Regions from separate parts of the Homo sapiens genome. Here all the other regions are linked to region 1. The links come from fine-mapping of genetic effects on gene expression. A gene starts in region 1. Each other region holds a variant in brackets. All regions are shown on one strand. Distances are between the middles of the regions. Region 1 holds the start of KCNH8 (potassium voltage-gated channel subfamily H member 8). Region 2 overlaps KCNH8 (potassium voltage-gated channel subfamily H member 8). Region 3 overlaps KCNH8 (potassium voltage-gated channel subfamily H member 8).

Region 1 (8,188 bases):
CCATATGACTTATTTTGGTCATTAAGTTGTAAGTGGAAGTTTGAAAAAACAGTATATGCTTTGCCGGATTATCTTTTTCTCTTCAAAGAAAATACCTTTTGAGCAGAACTTCCATCAATCTGGGCCCCAATAATGAGCAGGCTCTTACCAACTCAGGTGGGACATGTAGACTGAGCAAGAAATAGCATTATTGTAATAAGCCATTGAGATATTATGTTTTTTATTGAGGCATAACCTAGATTACTCTGACTGAAACCATAGCTTTGGAGATTGTGCTGGAGTATTTTAGTTTCTACATACACTGAGAAATAGGCAGTGACCATTGGGGAACAGGAGGCAGTGAACACTGGGGAAGAGGAGGCAGTGAACATACCACTGGAATCCAGCTTGGTTGGATATAAGAGCACAACAATTTGAAAGCGTTAGTCAAAGAAATGAACTGCTTGATTTTCCTTCTGAGCTTCTAAAGTCATTTATATTTAGAAGGAAAAGCTCACCAGTCATAGGTTGTAACAAATTATTAATACATAAATGTGTTCTGAGCTAACAGGACCATAAACTGTCATAGTTGGTCAACAATATTTATTGTGGATAAACAACTTGTATTAGATATGTTAGAACATAAAAAAGAGAACAATGATTATTATCATCCCTTTTATTGTATGCCACATATTATGAGATTCAAAGGCTTTCATAAATATTTTCTTCTACTCAGTGGAGTAAGTAGGGAAAGTATTATTATCCCAGTTTTACAGTTAAGGAAATGGAAACCCACAAACTTTAAATGACAAAGGGGATAAGTGGTTGAAACAAAACTAGAACTCAATACATCTGAGTAGATGCCTGTAAATTAAAATATTGCCTTCTTGCGAAGGCTAAAATTCTTGTTGCCAGAAAAAGTTTAAGAATATTTTCAGTGCCTACAGTCAAATACATATGCATCAATAAGGCATTTGCAGCTATTTTGTGTCATGGTATTGGATGAATGCTATAATTAGAAAACAGACGTGAAGCCGACCTAAAACCATCAAACTAATATAGAGAGCCCTGAAGCTTTTTCCAGTTCCAGTCAGTCTGAAAAGACAACATCAAATGCTAATGAGAGTCAGTCTTAAATAAAATAAGAATAAAAATTGCTTTATCTGTGGCTTATAACTCTTAAGTGAATTTAATGTGTATTTTCTCTCTTGTGTGTTACATTTTCCCTATAAGGAATTATAGAGTTGAACCCAGATCTTGTACCCATAAATCTCAAATGCTTATGGAGACATAAAGAATAGGTAAAAATGGATTTTTAATCACATTAAGGAATGCTGTTATGAGGCAACTTCCTTTGAAACTCAAAATACTAACAAATTGATAGGAAGATTTTAAAACATGGCTCCATTTTATTTGATACTTGTTCCATCTAAAGGTTGGACTTTTCCCCCTTTCTGATTAACCTGGATTCTGTGCTTGCTTTCAATCTGGCCGTTTCTAGATCAGGCCTTAAGAAACTGGCAGTTCCTACTTCCTGTCTCTTCAGACACTCTGGAAACCACCATGCTGTGAGGAAGCCCAAGTAGTTCCTGGAGAGATCTACACCAATAACTGAAGCCCCAAGGCCCTAGCACTGGCTGAGCTCCCAGCTGAAAGCCAGCACCAAATTTCCATAACTTTGAGTGAACCATCTTGGAAGTGTATATTCCAGTTCCAGGTTAAGTGTACTCAGAAATAACCTGCCCCATTGATCCCTGTAAAAATTGGAGATCTGAAAGCAAAATACAATATTGTTGACATTTTAAGTCAGTAGGGTTTGGGGCAGTTTATTGTATCAGTGAACTTTGCCTAGGTTGGTTTTACCTAGAGGCCTTCTATAGTACATAATAGAGTACCTTGGTCTGGTTATAGGGATTTTGTGCCTTCCTTTACATTTTAAAGTGAAAGAAAAATATCTTTTCTGTGAACATGAATTTTTTATTATTATTGTTATACTTTTAAGTTCTAGGGTACATGTGCACAATGTGCAGGTTTGTTACATTGGTATACATGTGCCATGTTTGTTTGCTGCATCCATCAACTCGTCATTTACATTAGGTATTTCTCCTAATGCTATCCCTCCCCCAGCTCCCCAGCCCCCAACAGGCCCGGGTGTGTGATGTTCCCCTCCCTGTGTCCATGTGTTGTCATGAACATCAATATTTTTAATGAGGGCATTAAGTTTACTCTATTGTGTGGTTATCCTGTATTCTTGTAGCATTGTCTCGTTTAGTCCGTAGAGAAAGATCACATCCCTGTAGTGTGTGATCTACTATAAAATGAGTTGGGGTTTTTTGTGTCAATAAAATGAGTTGCAACAAAATGAGTTGGGTTTTTTTGTGTCAATAAGTGGGGACAGTGGGAAAATTTCCTTAAGGAAAGCACATGAGATTTGGTGATTTGGGGCAGATGATAGTGAAAACTCCAGACTCCCATGGTGCTTCTTTCACGGTCTTTGCTTTCCAGGTGGCAAAACATGTTTAAAGGGATTTAATATACTTAAACTTGGATGGAGGTCATGTTCTAATGGCACAATTTGGCCTCACTGATGCCACAAACCCTTAGGATGAACATTAGGTTTCGGGCTAGAACTTAAAAAGGGCCTGGAACTCAAGACCAGAGTGGTGATGGCTGTCTTCATTAAGAAACACTTCTTGGTGGGCAAAGGATATAAGAGATAGTTAGGTCCATCTACTGCAGTTCAGTAGAATACAGGGCTTGAATTTGAATTTAGGGCAGGGATCTTGCCATGCCTAGCACAGTTCCTGACACATAATAGGTGTTGGAGGGGAGACAGTGAATGATAAATGCCAGGCTCCTTTTGCCATGAAACTGGGGCTTTCTTTTGGGTTGTCATTTTTAAGCCACTATGTGGCTTGCTTCTTGCAGTGATTTCATATATTAGGTAACAGATCAGGACCACGAGGAAACAATTTTTACACACACGGCCCTACAGTGCAAATTGTTATGAACCACAGTCATAGCTTACAACTAATACATTTCATCCTGAACTTCGAGCCAATTCACGGGTGGCGTTTATCTCCGTTTTACATCGGCAGCAACAGCCTGAATTTTCTGGGACACGATGCGCCACCCAAACAACAGGGACTCCCTCATCTTTTTCTCCCCAGCTCCGCCCAAGACTGAGCCACATAGCCACCTGCAGTTGCGATCGGCTCGCCGCGTGGGGGACTCCACCCGCGTGAGCTCGGTTTCCGAAAAGCGAAGCTGGGGTGGGACACAAGGATTGAGGGGAGGACAGGGACGGACCTGCGGCAGAAGCAGGGTGCAGCTGGGCGAGGAACCCCACGTTGGTAGCTTCTCTTCTGGGATGGCCGCCCCGCGCCGCCCACTCCGGAATCCTGTCCCCTCCCCGGCGCGCCCCCGCCCAGCTAGCCTAGAGCCTCTGCCGGATCTTCTCGAATTTCAACACAAAGGGAATCCTCGGCCGCAGGAAGTGCATCACGAGAAAGGGGGCCTGGGGGCGGGGAGAGGGGGATGCCGCTTCTCTCTCTTCTCCCCCTCCCTCCCGGAGCCCAAGGCAGACGTGACGAAACCCGCGGGGTCCCCCCCGAAGCCCCAACAGCCGAGATAATTGAAACAAGAAACCCCCTTAGTAAGGGGGCGGGGGGTGGGCCCTCCCTCCCTCCTCCCGCCACGCCCGAGTTCCTGGAGATCAGAGCTGCCTCGCCGCGGCTCTGACACCTGTTTGCTTTTTCCCTCCTTTCCTTCCGGGTGCACTAGCACCTGGGCTTACGTTTGTTTTTCTACCCTGGGGCTCTCAACTTCCCTTCCACACTCCACCTCCCTTGCAGAGTTTTCTATAAAGTTCGGGCTCTGGGTGTCCCCTTGCACTCCCCACAGGGCTGTGCCGCAGGCTTGGGCGACTTTCCCCGCAGAACGTTGGCCGAGAGGGAGTCCCCGCGGGGGGGGCCAGGGGGGAGGACTGGGAGAGACCACTTTCGTTTTCTGAGACGCCTTCAGTTCCTGGCCGTCCGCCAGGCTTTCTTCTTGGAGGTGTCAGTCTTCGGGAGTGGGGGCTGGGGAAAGGGGGGCAGGCTAGGGGATTTGTGTTTGAAGCTATTTTTGGAAGGCAGCCTTACTGTTTTTACTTACGTGGTATTTTGCAAATTAATAAAAATAGCAAACTTTTCTAGAAATGCTTTATTCACATTTTACCGGAGAATGGGAAACCATCCATTGTCCGTTCAAAAGGCTATTTTTTTAAAGTTTGGGATGGCTTGGGGAGGCCAATGGCAATTTGGGGAGAAGGGCTGAAGCACCCCTTTTTGGAGCTCGGGGCCAGTTTCCCGGACTAAAAGACCCTGGTGACTGGGGATGGGCCTCACAACTAACTCGGGCTGCCCTGCCCCTGTCGCGTGGGCTCGCAATGGCAAGTGCTCCGGAAGGGGGCCGCCTCCCCGTGGGGCTCCTGGCTGCCTCTGCTCCCTTGGACACCACTGGGGGGCCTCCCCCTCCTAAGTTCTAGGTTGAGGCCGGATACCTGCCCCGACCTGTCTCCTCCCTTTCTCCAATACCACACCCACGGGACTCCAGTCTCCCCGGGAGTGGGACGGAGAGGGAACAAAGGGGTCTTTGTTCACTGGCTCCCGGGGCGTGGGAGTTGCGCTCGCTCTCCTTTCCCGGCGTCCCGTGGAGACCGGGAGGCTCAGCGCCTCTCCCAGCTCTCAGCGCCGCCCTCCCAGACCCCAGAGACGTCGGTCAGGGCGCGGCGCCCCGGGCCACTGCGGGCTCTTTCCGGGCGGGCGACGTGGGGGGCGAGGCACCGCGCGGCGGCGCCTGGCGGGCACTGTTGCCCGCGGAGGGACGGTGGGGGGGTTTCAGCAGCTGGCGGGGGTGGAGGGGGCGGGAGAGGGAGCCTGCGCCGGGCTGAGCCTGGAGGTGCGGGGCGGGCTCGGGGAGCGCTCTTGGGGCTCCTCCTGCCACAGCCGGGGCGGCTGGAACTCTCTCCCTTTCTCCCTCCATCCTTCCACTTCCCCTGCTCGGCCCCGCCGTCAGGCCGGGTCCCCCTTCCCTGCCGTCATCAGGTTCCCCTTCTCCCTTCTTGGCACTTTCCTTTCGAACCATCCTTCTGGACAAACTTTGATGGAGAATTTCACACCACGCTGGAAAAATGCCGGTTATGAAAGGATTACTGGCGCCGCAAAACACCTTCCTGGACACCATCGCCACCCGTTTTGACGGAACACGTAAGTCTTACACTTGAACGAGTGGTATGGCATTTTCTGAGACTGATTTTTCTCGTACACATTACTTTTGCTCCCACCTTCCCTTTTGCACCAGCGGAGTGAATTTTCTTCTGTTCTTGCCAAGGTATCTTTTGTGCGGAGAAATTTGTTCCCTCATGGTTTGGTGTAGTATTAACACTTTGTATTGGTGTAATAGTTGGCTCTCTTGAGTTCTTGGGTTTGTTAAGGACTGAAACGCAGCCTGAGGAAAGACCGACGCCCGTATTCACTGTGGGACCTGCATTTTGGTGTATCTTTAGGGAATTGGTTGTAATTTTCTGAGGTGAAAAGGGGAATATCGGTGTACCTAATCTTTCTAGAGTTTCAAGGCTCCCTAGATCAAAAGGAGAGCTTGGAGTGTTCTTTCTTGGAGCTTCATTCCGTGATATATTTCGGATAGGTATGATTTTCTATCTGAGTTTAAGAAATGCAGGATTGCCAAGTGTAAGCTTTCTGTAGAATTTTAAGTGTTGTGAGTTTGTCAGAACCTTGATTCCTGCTTTTGAGCTAGAATAGCGTATCTTTTAATCCTTAAATGAGCCTAACACTCAAGCAGAGGCTGTTCAGGAAGAAGGACATGAATAAAGACGATTTGATGATAAGAGAAAGTTTTTAGTTTTTTTTTTTTGAGTACGAATATTATTGGACATTTAGCTCATTTAAGCTACAGTAGGAAAAAAAATAGATAGGATGTTGTGTGGTTGCTAGCAGACGGTTCGTTATCATCTGCAAGTTGTTCTCTTTCAGGACCACGGTCAGGTCCCCACTCCTTCTCAGGCTTTTCAAGCTCTCTACTTGACCCTGTGGATCTTCCTAGCTGGCTTTAACCCTGTAATTAGGAGTCTGTACTACCACCCCTAACAAATGCTCTCAGTTGGTTTCACTACGAATATCCTCATCTTCTTTCTAGCTTATCTTGCTTCTGTGCACTGTCTTCCATTTTTCTGTTGAGACTCAGAGAAACTCATTTATCCTAAAGTCCTTCTTAGTGGTTCAAGTGTCATTGCTTTTACTCTGTATATTTCTTGGAGCTGATATGGGAGAGCAATACTAATTTCATTTCCACTCCAGTAGTCTAAATACACAGTCTTATCTTTGGGTGGGAAGCAAGTCTTGGACTTATGCTTCAGGGATAGTTGGAAAAGTTTACATGAGAAAGAAATGAATCACTTTAATTTTGTTCAGTTTTTATTTTTGACATCTAGTCTAATCATGGTAGTTGGTGTGGATATTTGGTCACTTCATAAGTGTTTTTATCTTTACATCTAGCCATTCTTTTCCCTTTTATATTCTAAATGTGTTAGATGTTATGTATGAGGTGTAATGTTATTACGTATGTCTTTTTTAGATAATAATGATAAATATTATAGGAAAACTTCAAGTCCCTGCCATTGCCACTACCACACCACTGAAGCGCCACACAAAATCACCACTGCTGTGTTTTACCATGCATGATGGCGGATACTACTATTTTACTATTCATTACCTGAGGTACTGATCAGTTTAATGTGGATGTTTTTTTTTTTGAAGTTGAACATCCAAAACTAAAAGGCTGTAAACATTGATCCTGAATTTGTCTATTGAAAATGAGGTAATTGGCAAATGGTAATTGTTTATCTCATTGCCATTTAAAGTTGAATGAAGTGTAATGTGTAGTGAATCATCCCAGCACAGCCTTGGGAATTACTGCAGTGATACATTCAGATATCAATTGCTAATGAGAGGGGCTTTAAATCATCAGCGTGGAAATATCTTGGCCTCTGACTCTGACTATAGTGATATGCATGATAAGCAGGAGGGCATGTAGGGAGAGATGGATGTACTTGTGAATAGTTCTTTTTCTATGTTGGCTACACATTAATGTTAATAAGATAGGTTAGATACTTTAAATCCTTATTTTTAAAGAAGACCATCCTGACATACCTGTATTTAGTATAGTAAGAAATCAAAAAGTCTTTTGGAGACCATGCTTGGTCTGTGCTCCACAGCATCTGGGGGATTCCTGGAGGGAACCAGTTTGCATGAAATCTGACAATCAGAGAAGCAAATTTGAAGGTGATAAGTAACATAAGGGTTGACTTTGGCAAGGTTTTGTTTACAACATTTAGTGAACACCTCTCCTCCCAAGAAACCCCCACTCAATGAAAGAGGGTTTTCTTTTCTCATTTTCTTTTCCTTTCTTTTTTTTTTCTTTTTGAATAGCAGGATGACTTGAATAATCTGAAACTTAAAATACCTTAAACAAAATTTTAGCCACAAATTTTGGTATATCTAGAATAATGGGTATACCATTTTTCCAGCTAGCTATTTACTTTATCTTCTTATGCCATTGTTTCTTGTTGATACAGTTTTGTAATTACTATCTCTGAAACTATTTTCCTATGATAATCCTTACTTCTATTGATTTTTATAGCTGTCATTTATTTTCTTTTGCAAGAGAAAACTATTTACAAATTTTAAATTTACAAAATTGCCACCTACTCAAAAACTTTGCTGGAAAGTGAATAATGTTAATTATACTGAATATGTAATATGCTGAGTTGGTATAATTTTTACCTTATTTGTGAAGTATATTTTACGGTCATGCTAGTTTCTTATTTTATTTTGGACAATTTTTATGAAAAAAAAATTAGAGAGCAAACAACAACCCTGGCAAACTGCCTTGCTAATGTACCCAACATGCAGTATTATTATTAGCCTTATTAATTTATTTTATTGGAGAATAATAAAACAATGTAAGACATCATCTGAAAATCCTCCCAGGAAAAATAAATATATGACAACATAAAACTCTATAACATAATCCTACTATTTATCAGTTGAGATATTATCACAGGGCAACATAATGGAAGTTAATAATACATTTTATAACTTAGTGACACTTTATTATTTTACATATTATAATATTTCTTTTTAATATT
Region 2 (8,188 bases), 210 kb after region 1:
TTGTATCTCTGATTGCTTTGGTCTCTCTAAGAACTCTTCAGAAAGCTAAGTGTCAAAAGTAACATGATATGCAAGTATGCTTTGTTTATATTTACCTTAGTCAAAAAATCACTGAGTTATTTAACAGGACATCTGAAAAAACAGGATAGCGTAATGGGGAATATATAAATAAAGGGATAAAGCTGAGAAGCTTTCATAATAGAAGGAATATATATATATAAATCCTGAGTCCAAAAGGGCACTTTAGGAACTGAATGGGATAAAAAATACATATACTCCATACCTAAACATGTTACTGTGCAGATTATAAAGGATTAAAAAGAAAATCTTCAAAGCCTTCTGAAAGAGAAAATTTACTTACCAAGGTATAATAATTAGACTGAAGTCAGATTTCTCAGCAACAGTAGAGGCCAAAAGGCAATGAACAATATCTGGCTTACTAGAAAAAAATACTGGCCGGCCTTCCTTCCTTCCTTTCTTCCTTCCTTTTCTTCCTTCCTTCCTTCCTTCCTTCTTTTTTCTTTCTCTTTCTCTTTCCTTCTCTTTCTTTCTTTCATTCTTTCTTTCTTTCTCTCTCTCTTTTTTTCCTTCTTCTCTCTTTCTCCTCCCTTCCTTCCTCTCCCTTCCTTTCTTTTCTTTCTCTTTTTTCTTTCATTTCTTTCTCTTGGTTCATTCTTCTTGAGGAAAGGGTACACAATGAAGATATTTTCACAAAAAATAAAACTATTGTACCACCCACAGATTCTCACTGAAAGAACTACTAAAATATGTTCTTTAGCAGGAAGAAAAGTGAAGCCAGAAGGAAGGAGTGGATCCAAGATAAAACAAAATTTGAAATGAAAATTGATAAAATATGTTGACAAATTAGATTAACCATTGGGTGAAAATAAACAATATTGTTTCAATGGACTAAATAAAAACAAGTTATAACAGATACTGCTAAAACATGTTGATAAATTTAATTAACTATTGACTGAAAATATATTAAGGTGTTTTATGTTTTTTAAATACATAGAAACCAAAATTCTAAACAGTGATGACCATATGGAGGTGATGGTAGGTGGCTAAAAAGCAGTGTGTCACCTTTTAACATGTCCAGAGTAAATACATTAGAACCCAGGAAATATTGTTAGAAAACTTTGTAATTAGTTGTGTGTATTAAAATTTTTAAAGGAACTGTGCAAAAATAAAACAAAAATATTAATGGACCCAGTGATTTCAAAACAACCAGAAAAAAAAACCTAAGGAAATATGAAATATTACTAATCCACAAGGAAAAGGAAAGGAGAAAAACAAATGAGGAAGACAAATATGGGGATTAGAAGATGAAAAATAACAGCAGTAAATCAAGATATATGACAAATATTCAAATGTAAACACTTAATGGGTAGTAACTCACATGCTAAAATAAGTGATAGTCAATGGATTTTTTAAATTCAAAAATATGCCAGTTATAGAATTAAATCTAATACAAAATTACTAGAGGAATTGGAAAAAAGATCTGTTATGTAAATACTAACCAAAAGAAAAGAGGTGCAAGAATATAAATAGCTGAGATATAAAATTTAAGACGAAGATACTAATAGGGCTAGTAAGTAATATTATATGTTAATAAAAGAAACTATTAAGAAGATATAACCATAATAAATATATGTACTTATATATATATGTGTGTTGTGTGTGCATGTGTATATACATAGAGAAAGAGAAACTTATTTTAGAAAATAAAAATAGCTATAATAACACGCAGTATCAGAAACTGATAAACTAGCACATCAATATTTTTAGACTATAGGAGATTTGAAAAACGTGATCGACACCTGATACAATATCGTTTAAGTAGAATTCCTCAACCGTGGGACGACTGAAGTTTGGGGCTGGATAATCGTTAGTTATGGAGGCTGCCCTGTATATTGCAAGATGTTTAGCAACATCTCTGATCTCTACCCACTAAATGCCAGTAGCACCCACTGCCCAGTTGTGACAATCAAAATTGCCTCTAGATGTTGCCAATTTATGCATTTATTATAATTTCCAAGACATATTGTGAAATGAAATAAGCAAGATTAGTTGTGTATATATAGTATGCTAACGTTTATATACAAAAGGGGTGGGGAAAGAGTATGTGTGTGTATATTTACTTGACAATGCTTAGGTTGTCTTTGGAGATTTAAATAAGATATTGCTGAGCTTCTTTGCTTCCAGAGAGAACCACAAGGTACTGAGCACAGAAAAGGGAAGATTTTACTGGATACCTTCTGTGAACTTTTGAGTTTTGAGCAGTATAACTGTAATGCCAAATAGAGAATAAACAAAATTAGAGTAAAAAACATACATATAAGAGTTAAGTGATTACTCCAGAATTTTTAAAAAGCATGAGCAAAAGCCTAAAGGAGGTCATAAAGATAAGGACAGAAATTATACCCTAGATAGCAAATGAAAATAAGAACAATGTGGCAAGACTCAATCAAATTTGAAATGCACATACCCTAGGATTCAGCATTTATTCTTTTTTAGGTGGAGAATCACTTGCAGACATGTGCAAAAGGTTTGCTGGGTTATTGTTTGCAGGAGCAAAATAATGGAAACAAAGTCTATATTCACCGAATAGTAGAGTATAAATCAAGTGTGGTGGATGGGTGGATGTATATAATGAAAAACTACACAGTAGAGAAAAAAGAATATAGAGCAGGGATTGGCAAACCAAGTGTCAGAGGCCAAATCTTTCTCCCTGTTTTTATAGATAAAAGTTATCGTTAACACAATTACTCATATTCTTTTGTATATGTTTTATTGTTGCATTCCCACTATATCAGCAGAGTTGAGTGGTTGCAACAGAGACTGTGGCCAACAGAGCCTAAAATCTTCACAATCAGTCCTTTAAACAAAAAGTTTGCCAACCCCTGGTCTAGGACAATGTTTTCTAACCCAACATTGCCTTTTCCATAACAAATATTTTATAATGCCTTCTTATTCTCTACCTAGTCATCTTAAAAATAAAATTGATACAATTTTATATATCTCTGATACTGTAATATCAGAGACAACATAAAAGAAATCATTTATAATAATTTCTTGTGTATTTCAATTCATAAGGGCTGTAGCGTTAGGATACTAAAATGCATAATGAGATAAATACTTGCAGTTAGTTATAATGAACAAACTTGGATTTACAATAATTCCATTGAGGAAGTACAGGCAAATTAAAAGAGTAGAGGTACAAGTGGACATAGAATAAGAACTAGTATTATGATGAGTATTCATTTAAGCAGACATTAATATATGACAACAGAAATTGGGAAATAGCTAACTCAGGTAAGGATAGCATGCTAAGACAAATTTCAGTCTATGAAAATAGAAAAAATGAGGAAACTGAGTCTTCTGGCAAATTTGTTGGCCCTTATCCCTATATGTAGTATTCTAACAATTCCTGTGCTCAGACCTGGAGTGAGATAGTGATGAAATCAAAATAAATAAATAATAACAGGAGAAACATTTGAGTGGGGAAAAACAACAAGAAAAAGAAGTCATGAAATTAAGTTTTCCTAATGGTTTTTCAATAGAATCATGGATTTTTTTCTCTCATGTATTTCTTCATTATTTAAAATAAAGGAGATCCCACATTTTTCTGCCCAAACAGTTGAAAGTCTTGTGGAGTAAAGGGCTATCACATTGGGTAGATTATCCTGTCCAGGCCAGAACATCTCACGTCCTTGCCCACTACACACCAGTAATGTTCCCAATCATTATAACTCAAAATACTCCATACATATTTGGCATTTATATTCAATGCTGTATTTTGAGGTTATTTCCTACATCCACTTGAGTAGTTCTAGTTTGCCGATTCTCAGAGGAGCAATACCAACCATGGGAGATACTTTAGAAACACATGGGTTTGACTTTAACTCACCAATCGGCATTACTATTATTTGGTATAGCATTTGTGCTTGTAATACCAATTTACATATTTGCAAATGGAGTAAAAATTAAACAAATGAGCAGAATTCCCATTGGTGCAGCATTTCTTATAAGCATATATACACATTTTCATTGTTTGTAATTATTTTTTCTCCTTTTGCTTAAAATGCTTTATTAACCAATACTTCTATTAACTTACAAATACCCAAATTTTTCTATCTCAGAATCTTTATTTCTGAACATCATTTAATTTTTAGTATTAACTTTAGTGACATAATTAGGGCAGGTATATATTTGTATACATAAGGAGAAAGGGAGGGAAAGTAAGAAGTTGATACAAGATCTGGTTAATTACTGACGAAGCTAGAGCTAAAACCCTGAATGTTTCATTTGTAAATGGGCAAAGAAGTAGCATTATTGTGAGAATTTGGTGAGGTAATTATATCAAGAAATCAGCTCACTCACTGTTCAATCAATAATGATGATTATTGTCGATAATGTAGGGGAGGAAAATCTTCCTTCTATCTTCTTAGATTCTGTGGCTGAGAATTAAACTAATGTAAGACAGACTAACAGGGCAAAAAAGCATACAAATTTTATTAAATATTTTTCCATACACACAGGAGTCTTCATAAAGAAAATAAAAATCCAAATAAGCTGTTAGGCCCCAAAGCTTAAATAGCTTTTTTAAAAATGTGTTAAACATTGTGAGGATGTGACAAGACAGGGGAAGTAAATTGTGGGGCAGTGACTAGGAAATATATGGGGGAAATTAATGGAGGATGAGTTGTTTTAGTAGATTGGTTTGTCCAGATTCATCTCAGCTTCAACTCCCAGTCTTCAGTGATAAGAATGTTCTTTTCTTTCTGATATGGG[G/A]AAAGCACCTGTCTCATGGGAAATTTTATGATTTGCATTTAGAAGAGGGTCAGGGAAACTTTCCTGCACCTGCTGTTTCTCAAATACCTTCAGCTATAAATAATCAATATAACAAAGCAGCGTATCTTGAGGTGGCATGTTCAAGGTCATCAAGCCTGTATTTCCTCAGTATTTGTTTTTGTTTTTGTTTGTTGTTTGTTTGTTTGAGACAAGGTCTCACTCTGTCATGCAGGCTGGAGTGCAGTGGCACAATCACAGCTCACTGCAGCCTCAATCTCCCAGGGTGATGCTCCTACCTCAGCCTCCCAAGTAGCTGGGATTACAGGCATGTGCCATCACGCCTGGCTAATTTTGTTGTTTTTTTGTAGATGGGGTTTCCCCATTTTGCCTAGGCTAGTTTCCTGAGCTCAAGTGATCCTCCCCCCTTAGCCTCCCAAAGTGCCAGGATTACAGGCATGAGCCACTGTGCCCAGCCTCCTTGGTTTGTTTTAATATCTACTGTTTTTAGAAAATTAGCATCCTTTGAAACATACTTAATAATCCAGCTAATCTTGGGACTAAGATACACCAGAACATTGCACAACTCAAAGCTTTCAGGAACACAAGTGTCTGAGGATTCATTTACTACTTAAAGGAGCGGAGGCTTTTTCAGGTACTTATGCAGACTTGGCTCAGCATCTTTCTGAAAAGCCAAGAGAAGGTCTCTTAAAGACCATCATCTTGTATCTACCTGTCAGGCATCCTTTATCTGCAGTACTCTAGGGACTGACATGCATTGAATGATGTCAAACAACATTAGAAGTAATCATTCCAGTTATCTTCTCTCTTCCAATCTTCCATCAGCACTTCTAAGAACAAGGAAAAGAGCTGATCAGCATTTCAGCTCCCCCTCCTTTTTTCCTGAACAGCTCTGAAGAGGCCTGAAAGGCACAACTGGGACTTCCAGTAACACAGTCTAGAAGCAAGTCATTAGCTAAAGGCTTAATCACCAGCTTGAGTATTCAAGAGGTCTCTTAACAACAGCTTCATAATTTTGCTGGATCTGAGTTCAATATTTAGTATCATTTACAAATACATACTTGCTTCAAAAAACTTTTCTCCAAATCTCCTCTTTATTGTGCATAACCTATATAATCTCCGTTTCGTGTTAAATGGAACTAAGGGGTAGTGCTCTTGTACCATTGAACTCTACTCATATCAATGCTTGTTACACTAGTAGCCCCCAAAAAGGTACTTTAATTCTAGGATTCTTGGATGTCTTTTTCTATCAGGGTAAATACACAAACATCAGTGGGCCCTGAAAGGGTATGGACTTTTTAATGTTATTTCATTGTATAAGCAAATCCCAATTTATAGTATAGTCATTTTCCTGAAAACTGCAAAGATGTCATTTCCTCCTTAGGTAAAATGGCTAAAATTAAAGATACTGACTTGGATACTGAAGGCAAAGACATCTAATAATAAATAAAGTTGAAGTTTTATGATGAGGAGAAAATTAAATTAAATTTTACCCCTGAATTGCTTGGACATTCTGGTATACCCTGACTACATAGTTAAGCTTTGATTAGTTAACATCCATTCGTCTCTTAGTGTTTGGCTCCCTCTCTCCCTTCCTCTCTTCCTCTTTAAATCTCATTTTTCCTCCTCCCCTACTACTAACATAGTCAGATTCTCCCACCTATTCCTAGTACACCTTTTAGATATAAGGTGGCAATGGAGGTCCGTATACCCATATACCCCCACGTCTTCATGCCCACGCCTCCACAACACAAAGCCTTAAGCGTGTTGAGGAGACTCCTTCCAGTTATTCTGTTTAGCCATTCACGCTAATCTAGGATTGAGTAATAGGGTCTCTCACTAACAATGACTCAATACGGCATTCATGGCTCGGATTTGACCTTTGTCCCACAAAGCTATTTATAATGCAGCTATGAGAATATTTACAGTGTCTGTATGCCAAGATAATATATTTGGAACATTTATTAAATGGAATGTATTATATTGAGCATTGATCTTTGACTAGAAATGAATCACTGCCGACTTGGTTACTGGCCAGCTATTTTTTGGTGAATAAATCTAAGCCTGCGTATATAGCAATAATTATACAAAAAACAGAAAACTACACTACCACTTCAGATTCCCAGTGAGGTGTAAGGTAGTAAGTGTCTTATCTCAAAAATGTAGGGATTTTACATGTCAGAATATCTTGGTGGGAAAAGACCGTGCATTGAAAAGTAAGGTACTGTTTTCATCATTCTTATTAAGAGCTCTCAAATTAGGTGACTTTAAAGTACCTACTTAAGCACTTAAGCAAAGATTAAAATTGCATTTGTTTTACAAATCAACTGTCAGTTCACGTATTGCTTCATTAGGCTTTTCAGAATTCACTATGGGAAGATGAAACGCTATCATAAATTAACTATTGAACGGATACCCAGGATGTGTAACCACTACATTTTCCTTAACCATATGAAACTGCAGAGCAGACTATTTTTCATTTGATTGTTTCAAACATAGCAATGGATGTTTCCTTAGGCAAGATGTAATAGGCTTATGTTTAATTATAAGAATTACTTTATTCACCATCACTTTCTATTAGACAGACTTACAGATTTTTGGAAATAATTCCACCATTCTTTACTGTAAGCAAAATCATACTCAAGGACAATGTTCTCGATAAACCTACAAATTACATTTTAAGGTATTTTCTTGTGATTTAATGTTCCTCTGTGCATATACTGTGCTAATTATCTAAACTTTAAAATAGAAGCAGTGGAGAAAAACAAATGTCTGTCAATTACAGCCATTCCAAAACAATGTCTGCTTCCATTTTAAATCTTTCTGTGTGTTGTTTTCTCTACTTGTTTTAATGTAGTTGTGCTGGTATTCTATGCAAACTTGGGGAATATTTTTTCTCATAACATTTTAATATAATTATTTCTCTGTGTTTTATAAATATTTATAAACATATTTAATATCTGCATAATATTCCATCATATAATGATTATTTAGTTTATATAACCGCATCTTAATTGTTACGCATTTAAGATGATTTTGATTTTTTGCCACTTAAATATAAAAATCGTAATGAACATCTCTATGAAAAATATATTTATTTACTAACTAAGCAAATACGTACTGAGTGCCTATCATTTGCCATGTACTGTTCTAGATGCTGGAGATAGGCCAGTGAAGCAAATAGACACAGGTTCTTGCCTTCATATGATTTACATCCTGATAGGAGACAAACAGTAAACAAAACAATTAATTTAAATGGCATGCTTGATAGTGACAGGTTGCACGTAGAAAAATAAAGCAAAGAAGGGGGAAGGAATGGGCTGCAATTTTAAATCAGTGGCCACGCAAAGTATAATTGAGAATATGACATTTAAAT
Region 3 (8,188 bases), 200 kb after region 1:
AACATACACATGCTTTGATAAAACAGGACCATTCATCAGACATACGAAGTATTCATTTCTGATTGTAGTGAACAAAGAAAGATGTATGAGCCCAGGGTGAGGAACGAGATCTGACATGAAAGTGCTGCAAACCTGGCTGTACTTCAGTGCAACTTTCTGGAAGCCAAAACAAGATGTTTTGAATCATTTGTCCTCCAAGGACCATCAACCATGTCCGTGCTGGTGTGCCATGTACCACTGTGGTCACGCTTTGATTTTTTTTTTTTTTGGTCCTAATTCAATATAAAGTTTCTCTAGGGATACCTGTGCCTTAGTGTTATATTGATTTCCTGGGAGTCCAGGGAGAGGCTTGAAACAGTGCACACCACTTGATCTATGGATCCTTCCACTGGTGCCTATTTACATCCCCTTTCAGTTACCAAGTCAGCCTTAGTGACATAAGCAAGTTATAAGAAGAAACAAAGGTAACCGCATCTGGGCTTGATTCCATGCAAATCAACCAGCAAAGCACCTAAACAAATATTATCCACAGATTCTGTAAGGCTGAAAGCTGACACTGTCTAGCTTTTAGTGGAGAATTTAAACATAGCAAGTATTAGTGAGCTTTAAAATGCATTTGCTGGGCATGCTATTTTTCCCTTTAGATTCAACAAAGTACAAAGCAGTACTTAAAAATCTGATTTCAAAAAAACTATAACTCCCACTACTTAGCTAATTTGCTTAATTGCCATTCATTTAAGAAATACAAACATCAGAGTAGAGCATTAAAATAATACATAGTAATTTAAGATGCCTAACAGCCCAGTGACTCTAATACTACAGGTAATATCTTATTCCTGAAGCAAAGTATGGAATCAGGACTTGCCCTGTTCACGTGTTCACCATCTCCTTTCAAGGATAACATAGTAGAATGGCTAAATGGCAGATAGAAGGAAGGCAGAAGGGAGAAGAGGAAATGACTTGTATAGTTTATTGAATAAACAATAAATTTTCTGGAAATTCTGGCTGTAATAACATTTGCACACACAAAAAATAATTCTTAACATTTTATAGCCCTTTGCTATTTACAAATTCCTTTTACTTACATCATATTATTTGATTCTTATAGCAAGCCAGTACTAGGTCTGATTTTTATTAGTCCCATTTTAATGATGGAAAAAAACACAACTTATTAGAAGCAGCAGTTGTGGTACCCAACCTTTAATCTTCTAATTCAAAGCCACTGTGCTTCTGACTCTTACCTTGCTGCTTCTCGGATACAGTTCTGTGGAACAGGAATATATGCTTCAGCCATAGTCAAATGAACTCGTCAGGTCATTAGCAGGTTTGGGAATCAGGATGCAACATATTTTAGTCTGGCTCTAACTTTGCCTGGTATACCTTGAAAAAGGTGTTTTCAAATTCTGCCTTCCTTGATTGTTATTCTGTCAATCAAATGAGAATGATATGATGCAAATGTTTTCAACACAAAGAAATATTAAAGATCACACTAGAGCCTTGAAAACTTGAAAGGAGAGTGCTACAAATGCATTTTTCTGGCGGGGACAGTGGTGATCAGCAAAGGCATACACTGGGTTTAGATTACTCACTGAAGTGACTGTAGAAACATTTTCACATTCTCTTGCTCATTCAGATGATAGTTTCAAAGGAACTATTGCAAAAATAGTTTAGGAAACAATTACCTTAATTAGGCACTGGAGTTAACTAGTATGTTTCAATAACTCATAGGTGGAGGTTAAACATCTAAAACACCATTGGTACTAAAGAAATATGCTTGAAGATTAATAAATAAGATAAACTTAACGTCTAGACTAGGCAAACTCCATGTTTGACAGTTATAAATAACATGTCTTTCCCCCTACTTCCTGCTAAAAAGCATAATTTTACAATTGTGTACCATTTTTTTTTACAATTTTAAGAATTTTTTTCATTCAAAAGGATTTTGATAAAACATTACAAAAGCTGGTGGAAGAAGAGAAGCATCTATTTTTTTCACTCAGGTGATTATGTAAAGATGTTTGCAGGATTTGAGTTAACAACATTTCAAAATTTAAATCTAATCTCAAATGTATTGAATTCTCAGTATCTTTTTAAAATATTTTTAAAATATGTTCTAAGTAGCTTACAAAATGAAACCATGAGATTTATTTTCTGATTTGTACAGAAAACTAATATATTGCTGAACTTTTGTGACAGAATCACTAATGCTTCATATAATCAGCATAATCAAAGACAAAAACAAAAACTTCACTTTTGAGTTTTCCCAAATCATTACCCTAGATATGGATGTTCCCTCAAACAATGTAAAATTTTAATTTCTGTAATACGATAGAAAAAACTTATGTGGATAGAAAATGAGATATTTCCCATGGCTTCTGATAATTCTTTATTGTAGTAAATATTCAGGGAAAATTTGGATTAGAACCAATCATGTTATTACAACTTGAAGTGTTTATCAGTGGTGAGAAGATTAATGGTTATAGACCTTAATTCCCTCTTCCAATGTAACAGCCCGAATTTTTATGAGAAGCCCAACGGGGCTACTTCATCTCCCCTTCTCTGTTTTATGCCAAAGTCTACCTTTGGAACTGGTTTCTTGAAACCAGAGAATGAGACAAAGGAGACAGGACAAATATGAGGGAATTGTATGAAACATAGATGCAGTGGCAAATGGGCATTTAAGGACCATCTGGAAGTAGTTTAACAGTGACCCACCACGAAGTACTGACATTATGAGATGCCTGTGTGGGTTGAGTGAGAATATTAACAGGAAGTAGAAACATGGGTTGAAAATACCTACCAAAGAGAAATGCCAGACAGGGGTGCGTTAATATTAAGGTAGCAGAACTATTCAATCACTGACAGTCACCACTTAGAGCTAAATGTTCCTGATCTTTCTGAACCTTTCTTGAATCCTCAGGTACTTCAGGATCCCTGAACACATCACATTAATCTGCCCTTCCCTCAATGAGTGAGACAAGAACACAACATTGTGACCTACAAGTAATATGTATTCGGGAATTTATAACTGCTCTGTTAATTCAACTAAACTTTCAAATATAAGTTTCCATTACCTATCTTATATTTCCCATTAATTGAGGTCAAAGCCAGGTCTGCAAGTAGCTGGTCACAGGCTTGTCAAATTTCCACACATGCTATTGTTGGGCCTCCCTTTGTCTTCTAGCAACAAGGGAATTGTTCATCAATTTGAACTGCATTCAAAGTGAAGTGCTTTTGCAGTTATCAAAAACTCCAGCTATTCTGCATTTAATCAGCTGCACAGTGAACATTGGCTTTCTCCTCCCATGACTTGACTAATAACTCTTAAGCAACTGTTTCTTACTTTACCATCTGAATAATGTCTGGCCCATGTCAGAGTGCATCTGTGTCAGTCAAGGTAACGAGATTTGGGTTCCCAACTTCACCAACAGCCACAGTGCAAAAAATGAAAGTAGTTAGCACGACTTGGCTATATTTGGAAAGAAATGTAAACTGTTTACAATATAATATTGGTCATATATCTATTCTTTTTGGAAAGAAAAGCACCATTGCTGTCATCAGTAAAATATCAGGTCAAATATAGTCTTTAGATAATGACTGTCATCAGAAATCTACAAGTATACAGAATGTTCTCATGACAATAGGAATGTAAATATAGCTTTGTGTTTATAATGTGTGTAGAATTACATGTAACTGTGAATGTTTTTTGATGACATTTTAGGTAATGGTCTTTTTTATTTTTTAATGAACAAAATCTGGGTTACTCACTTAGCTTCATGACTAAACTCTGCATATTCCTGTTCCTTATAACAAAGATCTCTGCTCAGTTTTAGATGTTTAGATGCTTTGC[G/A]TCACCAACTTTTAAAAGTCACTTGTAAGATACTGCTTTGTGTAGTGAATGATCCTACTCACAAAAGTGTGTGTTTCAAGCTATGTAATCCTTGTTTCTAATGTTGTGTTTCTCCTTTCTCTCCTTTTTGTCTTCATCCACAGAATGTTTTTGTAGATAAACCAGCATTTCCGGAGTATAAAGTTTCTGATGCAAAAAAGTCCAAATTCATACTTCTGCATTTTAGCACTTTTAAAGCTGGCTGGGACTGGCTTATTTTGTTGGCAACGTTTTATGTTGCTGTGACTGTACCTTACAACGTTTGCTTTATTGGCAATGACGACCTGTCCACAACTCGGAGCACAACCGTCAGTGACATTGCAGTGGAGATTCTTTTTATTATAGGTAAGAACAAACAGCTGCTTTCCTACGATATTTGCATATGAGAAGTGAAGTGTGTTCCAGATTTTTCTGACATGAATTTGAACTAAGATCCATTTGCATGGGCTTGATTCAGCCTCTGTTGCAAATTTTGGAGAAGCACATACTGTATTTGGATTTCTGAAAATTGCCTCTTCCAACTTTTCCTGTCCCTTTATTCAAACAGATCTAAACTGATCTCCTGTGTTTCTATACTTATTTCATCCAGAATGGGCTAAAAAAGATTTAACAGCTGTTTTGTTTGTACTCTCACATCCTTCATGATCTTAAACTGGTAGGGTCAGAGATGGGTTTGACAAAAACCCACCAGTGGTGTTGTGACAGTGGTCCACTCCTTGACGTGTTCTTTCTCCATGCCCTTCCGTGCCCTTTCAGCATGTTGATGGTTTCAATAAATGACCTGGTTGCAGAAACAAAGGGTTACATAAGCCTTGCAGTAAATCTGGAGAAGCAGTGAGTATCTGATTTTAATTAAAGAAAAGGCCCCAAAGGATGTTTGTTAAGATAATTTATCACTAGAATATTGTGTACCTCAGTTGAAGCTGCGTCTGTGCCAATCTTGTAAGCCTTTTCCTATTTTCCTGTCCCTTAAATCTTCATCTTGTTTAGACCAAAGCCTAGCTCTGGCTTGCTCATTCTAGGACAGATTCCGGGTCTGTAAGTCACAGATTGACTCCCTGTTGAGTTATTGACTGTCATTAGCAGCTGATACCTGCTTCTTTCCTTGGTCATGGTGATAGAGGGCTATATTCTTACTGTAAAGATGAGAGGATGTTTGGAAACATTTTCAAGCAGGTAGGTGAACAAAGGAGTGAGAAATGGATCTTAAAATTTCAAAGAAAAATAAATAATTAAGTGAGGCACATCAAAACCTTGGTTCAATGGTGGTAGTAGTTGTTTTTTTGTGTGTTTTTTTGGTTTTTTCTCAGTGAAGCTGTTAAATCTTTGAGGCTAGAGTGCGTTTTCTGGTTGAATGTCAGCACGTTTGCTTTGGATGAGTTTGTGTGCTCTTGGTATGGCTTGGCATCGTTATTAACATTGTGTCTACTGGGCACACCCTTCAGAGCCTTGATAGGACCTCTGCTGTCACCCCAGAAGTGGTAGCTATAGTGTGTTTAGGCCACTAGATGGCAATGTTGTCTAGTTAGGCAGACGGCAATTTTATTTTTAATTTTTTTATTTTAAAATATAGCTATCCTTTATTAGAAAGATGTAACCATAAAGGGATCTATTAAATAATGGTTAAATGGAAAATAACATTCCAGTTTGAACAAGAATTTAAAATGAAAATGGTAGACAGATTGGGTGTGTCTGTGGTTTTGTATCCTTTTACTTTGCCAACATTTGAAGTCTCCTCCCACCCACCCATGATGCACACATAAATTAGCATCATAAAAACACTCCCCATGCCCTGGTCAAAGTTCTCAAGAACTTGGGCAGTCACTCAACATGGCTAAGCCTTCGTTTTTTGTAGTAGTGATTTCATAGGGTTTTGTGAAATAATAGATGTAAGTATCTGCTTAACAAATACTTCATCATCTTATTGTTATTTACAACTTTGTTATTAGGTCAAGTTATATCTTGAACTTTCCTTTCCATTCTTCCTGGTTCTTAGATATTTGACATTCTTTGGCCTTAGAAGCCACTTCTGTTACCACATGTTCATTAGCAGATGATGACTGACTTACTCCCATAAAAACTCATACCTTTGACGGAGATATTTTAAAAGTTTTTGTTTATTTGTTTTAAGGCTGCTTTTCTCTACTAAACCAATGGAGACTCATTTGCTCCCCTGATAGCAACCCCTAAATTCTTCTGTGTTTTTTATTACTGTCATTTCGACTGTGCTTCAGCAGCAAGATGGTTCTCCCAGTAGGCAATACCCATCCCTTACTAGCTACATGCAAAGGAATGAAAACCCATTCCAATTTTTTTGGTGTTTACTTTCTGCAAAGATTTAGGATTTGAAATTTTGGTCTGCAAGCAGTTCTAGTGTGACTCCTGCCTGAAATCTCTTGTTGACCAACTTATTTTTATAAGCAGTAAAAACTTTCCTATTCTTTCCTGCTGTTATCTGCCTGCTCTTTCTTTTAAATGAGTTTAAGCATATCTACAATTTATTATAGCATATTTAGAAAAATGGCTTAAATTAATATTTCTCTGTTTCCCTAAACCTTTATTCTATAAAATATTTCAAAAAGGTGGCCTAAAAGTGATCATTGAGAAATAAGTTAAAATACTGGGGACAAAATAGTTGCCTGTAATATTGCCTGTAATATTGTATCTTTACAATGTGAAGGTAGTGTTCATACCATTTAATATTTATTAAATTACTGCAGACTTAAACTTCCCTGTCTGACAGCTTTGAAGAGAGGAGCGGTTCTCCCAGCATGGAGTTTGAGATCTGAGAACGGAAAGACTGCCTCCTCAAGTGGGTCCCTGACCCCTGAGTAGCCTAACTGGGAGATACTTCCCAGTAGGGGCCAACTGACACCTCATGCAGCTGGGTGCCCCTCTGAGACGAAGCTTCCAGAGGAAGGATCAGGCAGCAACATTTGCTGTTCTGCAATATTTGCTGTTCTGCAGCCTCCGCTGGTGATACCTAGGCAAACAGGGTCTAGAGTGGACCTCCAGCAAACTCCAACAGACCTGCAGCTGAGGGTCCTGACTGTTAGAAGGAAAACTAACAAACAGAAAGGACATCCACACCAAAACCCCATCTGTACGTCACCATCATCAGAGACCAAAGGTAGATAAAAACACAAAGATGGGGAGAAACCAGAGCAGAAAAGCTGAAAATTCTAAAAATCAGAGCACCTCTTCTCCTCCAAAGGAACGCACCTCCTTGCCAGCAACGGAACAAAGCTGGATGGAGAATGACTTTGACGAGTTGAGAGAAGACGGCTTCAGACAATCGGTAATAACAAACATCTCCAAGCTAAAGGAGGATGTTTGAACCCATCACAAAGAAGCTAAAAACCTTGAAAAAAGATTAGATGAATGGCTAACTAGAATAAACAGCATAGAGAAGACCTTAAATGACCTGATGGAGCTGAAAACCATGGCATGAGAACTATATGACGCATGCACAAGCTTCAGTAGCCAATTCGATCAAGTGGAAGAAGGGGTATCAGTGACTGAAGATCAGATGAATGAAATGAAGCAAGAAGAGAAATTTAGAGAAAAAAGATTAAAAAGAAATGAACAAAGCCTCCAAGAAACATGGGACTATGTGAAAAGACCAAATCTACATCTGATTGGTGTACCTCAAAGTGACAGGGAGAATGCAACCAAGTTGTAAAATGCTCTTCAGGATATTATCCAGGAGAACTTTCCCAACCTAGCAAGGCAGGCCAACATTCAAATTCAGGAAATACAGAGAATGCCACAGACGTACACCTCAAGAAGAGCAACTCCAAGACACATAATTGTCAGATTCACCAAAGTTGAAATGAAGGAAAAAATGTTAAAGGCAACCAGAGAGAAAGGTCGGGTTACCCACAAAGGGAAGCCCATCAGACTAACAGCGGATCTCTTGGCAGAAACTCTACAAGCCAGAAGAGAGTGGGGACCAATATTCAACATTCTTAAGGAAAAGAATTTTCAACCCAGAATTTTATATCCGGCCAAACTAAGCTTCATAAGTGAAGGAGAAATAAAATCCTTTACAGACAAGCAAATGCTGAGAGATTTTTGTCACCACCAGGCCTGCCTTACAAGAGCTCCTGAAGAAAGCACTAAACATGGAAAGGAACAACCGGTACCAGCCACTGCAAAAATATGCCAGATTGTAAAGACCATCGAGGCTGGGAAGAAACTGCGTCAACTAACAAGCAAAATAACCAGCTGACATCATAATGACAGGATCAAATTCACACATAACAATATTAACCTTAAATGTAAATGGGCTAAATGCTC

What was found.
Region 2: its variant is fine-mapped to the expression of KCNH8 in whole blood (TOPMed, PIP 0.93).
Region 3: its variant is fine-mapped to the expression of KCNH8 in whole blood (TOPMed, PIP above 0.99).

What each region holds. Positions count from the first base shown.
Region 1 is chr3:19,143,568-19,151,755 of GRCh38, forward strand. It overlaps KCNH8 (potassium voltage-gated channel subfamily H member 8), which reads left to right and starts at 4,943. Exons shown (of 16, transcript NM_144633.3): 1 at 4,943-5,228. The coding sequence starts at 5,153. RefSeq lists enhancers at 3,198-3,791, 3,792-4,385 and a silencer at 3,333-3,504.
Region 2 is chr3:19,357,683-19,365,870 of GRCh38, forward strand. The region is part of intron 5 of KCNH8 (potassium voltage-gated channel subfamily H member 8); the gene reads left to right. Among named protein-coding and RNA genes, the nearest start is that of MIR4791, 47 kb to the left of the region's middle. The variant G/A (reference allele first, on the strand shown) is at 4,795.
Region 3 is chr3:19,343,732-19,351,919 of GRCh38, forward strand. It overlaps KCNH8 (potassium voltage-gated channel subfamily H member 8), which reads left to right. Exons shown (of 16, transcript NM_144633.3): 5 at 3,994-4,234. Among named protein-coding and RNA genes, the nearest start is that of MIR4791, 33 kb to the left of the region's middle. RefSeq lists a silencer at 5,279-5,328. The variant G/A (reference allele first, on the strand shown) is at 3,851.